Linked DNA regions of Homo sapiens: region 2 is linked to region 1. The links come from fine-mapping of genetic effects on gene expression. Tissue or cell type: whole blood. Region 1 holds a variant in brackets; the other region holds the start of a gene. All regions are shown on one strand. Distances are between the middles of the regions.

Region 1 (2,758 bases):
CCGAGGCAGGCGGATCACCTGAGGTCAAGAGTTTGTTGAGACCAGCCTGGCCAAAATGGTGAAACCCCATCTCTACTAAAAATACAAAAATTAGCTGGGCATGGGGGCTCACGCCTGTAATCTCAGCTACTTGGGAGCCTGGGGCAGGAGAATTGCTTGAACCCAGGAGGCGGAAGTTGCAGTGAGCCGAGACTGCGCCATTGCACTCTAGCTTGGTCAATAAGAAAGAAACTCTGTCTCAAAAGAAAAAAAAAAAATCTGAAAGAGAGGCCAGGTGCGGTGGCTCACACCTTTAATCCAGCACTTTGGGAGTTCAAAGTGAAGGGACTGCTTGAGGCCATGAGTTCGAGACCAGCCTGGGCAACATAATGAGACCCTGTCTCTAAAAAAAGAAAAAAATAATTCTCAAAATGGTATTAGCACTCCTGTGTTCTTTACAACAATATTCACAATAGCCAAATGTAGAAATAACCCAAATGGGTTGAATGGATGAAAAAAATGTGATCTATACATGCAACAGGGACTACTACAATTAAGCCTTAAAAATATGCGATGACAGGCCAGGCATGGTGGCTCACGCCTGTAATCCCAGCACTTTGGGAGGCCGAAGTGGGTGGATCACAAGGTCAGGAGTTCGAGACCAGCCTGGCCAATATGGTGAAACCCTATCTCTACTAAAAATACAAAAATTAGCCAGGCGTGGTGGGGCATGCCTGTAGTCCCAGCTACTCAGGGGGCTGAGGCAGAAGAATCGCTTGAACCTGGGAGGCAGAGGTTGCAGTGAGCCAAGATCATGCCACTGCACTCCAGCCTGGGTGACAGAGTGAGACTCCGTCTCAAAAAAAAAAAAAAAAAAAAGAAAGAAAGAAAGAAAGAAAAAAAATATGTGACAACATAGATGAAACTCAAGGACATTATGCAAAGCAAAATAAGCCACAGAAGGACACATATCTCATAATTCCACTTATATGGGATATCTAAAGAAGTCTAATTCCTAGATTTTGGTTCTATAGTTGTCAGAGTTGCAGAAGAAATTGGGGAATAGCTCATCAGTAGGCATAAAGATTCAATAAAGCAAGATGAATAAGCTCTAAAGAGCTGCTGTGTAACTCTGTACCAGGGGCTCACACCTGGAATCCCAGCACTTTGGGAGGCTGAGGCTAGAGGACCACTTGAGCCCAGGAGTTCGAAACCAGCCTGGACAACATAGCGAAACTCTGTCCCTATAAAAAATTTAAAAATTAACTGGACATGGTGGCATGCATCTGTAGTCCCAGCTACTCTGGAGGCTGAGGATGGAGGATTGCTTGAGCCCAGGAGATGGAGGCTGCAGTGAGCTGTGATTGTACTCCAGCCTCAGTAACAGAGTAAGACCATGTCTCAAAAAAACAACCATGTATTATACATGTATTGTACATTTAAAAATATGTTAGGAGGACAAATTTCATTAAGTGTCCTTACCACAGTAAAACGAAACTAGCAAATATTCATGTGCAGGATTTTCTGTGGGC[A/G]TAAATTTTCAACTTATTTGGGTAAATACCAAGGAGCACTTGATATTTTCTGCCATTCTGTGGCTTCTCTTCACATTCTCTTGGCAGAGTCTTTTGCAGGGCAGAAATTTTCATTTTAAATTTCTTTCCCTTTTCTGTTCAAAAGTTTCGGTTTTCCTGGATTTGATAACATTTTTTGGAGAGGGGAGTACTTGTTTACCTACATGTTTATATATCAGTCAACCCATATTCTCCCCTACTTGTGTAAATGTCTCCAAAATTCAAAAACATTAGGTATTCTATCAATTTCATCTCCTTGAAGAGATCTCTTCTCTTATTTGAGTGTGAACTGCGAGATTCTCTTCTCCTCTCTCTTACATTCAATTCCTGTTTCCTGGAGTCCAGATGTTACTCTCTTTTTTGGGGGTGGGGGGACGGAGTCGCATTCTGTCACCCAGCCTGGAGTGCAGTGGTGTGATCTTGGCTCACTGCAACCTCCGCCTCCCAGGTTCAAGTGATTCTCCTGTCTCAGCCTCCCAAGTAGCTGAGATTACAGGCGTGTGCCACCATGCCCAGCTAATTTTTGTATTTTTAGTAGAAATGGGGTTTCACCATGTTGGCCAGGCTGGTCTTCAACTCCCGACCTCAGGTGATCTGCCTGCTTTGGCCTCCTAAAGTGCTAAGATTACAGGTGTGAGCCACTACTCCTGGCCCAGGTCTTACTCTTTATTGTTTTTCTTGTTTACTATTTCTTGTTTTACTTGGTTTACTCCCTTATTTTAGTGGAGTACATCCTCCAGTAGCTTTCTCAAGTAAGGGTGCGTAGGCCGGGTGCAGTGGCTCACGCCTGTAATCCCAGCACTTTGGGAGGCTGAGACGGGTGGATCACAAGGTCAGGAGATCGAGACCATCCTGGCTAACATGGTGAAACCCCGTCTCTACTAAAAGTACAAAAAATTAGCCAGGCGTGGTGGCGGGCGCCTGTAGTCCCAGCTACTCGGGAGGCTGAGGCAGGAGAATGGCATGTACCCGGGAGGCGGAGCTTGCAGTGAGCGGAGAGCACGCTGTTGCACTCCAGCCTGGGCAACAGAGCAAGACTCCGTCTCAAAAAATAAATAAATAAATAAATAAATAAATAAATAAATAAATAAATAAGAAAGGGTGCATAGGAGGTAAAATTTTTGAGCTCTTGCCAATCTGAAAATATTGTTTTTTCTACTCTCACTTTATTAGTAGTTTGGCTAAGTATTGAATTCTATGCTGAGGGC
Region 2 (2,758 bases), 20 kb before region 1:
CAGCTTTTGGGGGGGGACTCTCCGCCCTCTTCCCCCCTCTCCATGGCACAACGGGCTCCACCACCACTCCTCCGTGGGGCCGGGGAGCTGCGCCCGAGCCTCAAGGCTAGGGAGTGGGGTGGGGGAAGGGAGAGGAGGAGGGGGCGGCTCCTCCAAGCGAGACACAAAGAGACGTCCTTCAGCCTCGGCTCCATGGCGACGCTGGGGAAGGGGGAGCGCGCAACCCGATACTTCCTTCCCCACCTGCAGGGCTATGGGGACCTCGGTGGCCACTCACCTGCCGCCCCTCACCTGGGCCCGGCTTACCTGGGCTGGGGCCGCGGGGACGCCGCGGCAGGGGGCCTGGGCGCCGTCGCGGTCTTCGTCTGCCCGGCCCCGGGGGCTCAGGGCGCCACGACCATGGACCGGGGTGCAAGCGGTGCCGCCAGGGGCTCAGTCGCCCAAGTCCTGGAGCTTTAGGGGGGGGATCCCCGAGGCTTCTTGCTGGTGAGAGTGTCTCTTGCTGTCCCCGGCTGCCTAGATTTGGGATTTCTATGTACCGGAGTTGGGGGGAATTGGGATCCCCTGATCTAGGGGCGTTCTGAGCTGGGTCTTCTTGTCTTGAGGTGTGGAGTTGTAATGACCGGATCTTGGGAGGGGGTTCTCGCAATCCCGGCCTGGGGGCACTGCGTTCTAGGTCTTGGGGCGGGGGCCCAGACTGAGGAGGGGGAGTCCTTGCGGTGCCGTAGGGGGCTTGCTGTCTTCTAAATACCGAGGAAGTCTCCGCTTTCCCCGCAGGGGAGTCGCTCGGTGTCGGATCCGGGAGGGCCCCCCCTCTTCCCCGAGGCTCGCCGGATCCTGGATGTGGAAGGGGGCTCCCCGCACTCCTCGGCTGCGGGGGCTTTAGTGGGTCCCGGCCACCGGCGGGCGCTGGAAGCCCCTCAGCCGCTGGGGGGCTCGGTCGCCGCCGCTACGAGCAGCCCGGCCCTGCGCTCCCGGCCCCCGGCCTGGCCCGGGCTCCGGCTGCGGCTCCAGCTCGCGCTCCGCCTGGCGCTCGGGCCCCGGCCCCGGCGCCCGCCCGGGCTGCGCTCCATCGCGGCATCGCGGCTCCGCCCTCCAGCCAGCGCGCACCTGCCCGCCCGGCCCGCGGCTCCGCCCTCCGGCTCGCGCGCCGCCGCCCGCCCCTTTGTCCGTCCCGCTCGGCGCGCGCCCTCGCGCAAGCGCGCTCACCCGCCGCGCGCCCGCCCTCCCGCCGCGCGCCGCGGAGCGCAGATTCTCCCCGCGCGGCGCCCCCACCCCCTTCCGGCCGCGCTGGGTCCTAGCGCCGGTGGCTCCCGAGCTGGCTCCCACCCCCCACCCCCCACCCACCCCACTCCTTTTCTAGGTCAGAGCCCACGAGGGGGCGAGAACGAGGTTACAGAGGACTCGGGGGAGTCTGAGAGGGTCACCTGGTCCAGCTTTCTGGGCCCTGCGGGACGAGACTGCCCCAGACTGTCCCGGTCTGTGCTAGTGGGGCGGAGCCTGTGTGTGTTTGAAGGAGGGAAAACAAATCCAGGTTCTGCATTCGGATATGCATTTCATTCATCCATGCGTCCGCCTGCCTGCCTGCGCTTCCATCCATCCATCCATCCGTCCGTCCATCCATCCATCCATCCATCCATGCATCCTATTTCCAGCGAGACGTCAGAGAACTCACAGTCTTCTTGGGGAAGAGGTCATAAACTTGGGCCTGGGTGGTTGCCCTATCCAACTGAGGTCGCCTTTGCGATCCCTGCTGCAAATAGGCAGTGACTAGTCCAGGAGTGCAGCTGGGAGGAACTGCTCGCCGGATAGAAGGGAAGAAAGGAGATTCTAGGCAGAGGTACAGCAGGTGTAAGGGATGTTGCATTGTCTGTTTGATAACCGGAAATTGGTGGCCTGGATGAAGTGGGTGGATGGGGACAGAGATGAGATAGGGACAGCTCGTCCTTCCAGGCCCTGTTCTTTCTCCTCCCTGCAGCTCACTCTTTCCCTAGTGAGAAAGCCCCAATAGGACGCCTTCCCTATTTCTTTCTTTTTTTTTTGTTTTTTTAGCTTCAAGCTTCAAAAGCATTTCTTTTTCATTCTTTTTTTTAATTATTATTATACTTTAAGTTTTAGGGTACATATGCACAACATGCAGGTTTGTTACGTATGTATACGTGTGCCATGTTGGTGTGCTGCACCCATTAACTCGTCATTTAGCATTAGGTATATCTCCTAATGCTATCCCTCCCCCTTCCCCCCACCCCACAACAGTCCCTGGTGTGTGATGTTCCCCTTCCTGTGTCCATGTGTTCTCTTTGTTCAATTCCCACCTATGAGTGAGAACATGCGGTGTTTGGTTTTTTGTCCTTGCGATAGTTTGCTGAGAATGATGGTTTCCAGCTTCATCCATGTCCCTACAAAGGACATGAACTCATCATTTTTTATGACTGCCCCTATTTCTTCTAAGTTTTTGATCAGGCTGTTTTCTCAACCCAGCGTAATCCTCCCAGCCACTCCCGACTGTTTCCAGAGCTTTAGGAGCCAGGGATTGCAAACGCAAGTACCTACAGGCGCAGACATGAGCGACTGGGGTCGCATGTAAAGTGATAGAGAGGGTGGAGAAGAGGGGAACTGGAGACATCGTGGGCTGTGCGTGGCTGGATGATATTCAAAGAGAAGCAGGACATCCAGAAATCTTCCAACTTTTAAATGTTTGAAACGAATTCCCAAAATTCGGAAATATTGAATGGGCCAAATGAAACACACTTTGCAG

The links. PIP is the estimated chance that this variant, and not a neighbour inherited with it, causes the effect.
Region 2: it holds the start of SBK1, and the variant in region 1 is fine-mapped to the expression of SBK1 in whole blood (INTERVAL, PIP above 0.99).

Annotation. Positions count from the first base shown.
Region 1 is chr16:28,270,720-28,273,477 of GRCh38, reverse strand. It overlaps a transcript of SBK1 not described here. Among named protein-coding and RNA genes, the nearest start is that of SBK1, 20 kb to the left of the region's middle. The variant A/G (reference allele first, on the strand shown) is at 1,512.
Region 2 is chr16:28,290,849-28,293,606 of GRCh38, reverse strand. It overlaps SBK1 (SH3 domain binding kinase 1), which reads right to left and starts at 1,082. Exons shown (of 4, transcript NM_001024401.3): 1 at 307-1,082. LOC124903670 (a long non-coding RNA gene) reads left to right here and starts at 1,542. Exons shown (of 2, transcript XR_007065033.1): 1 at 1,542-1,840. RefSeq lists silencers at 982-1,211, 1,419-1,590.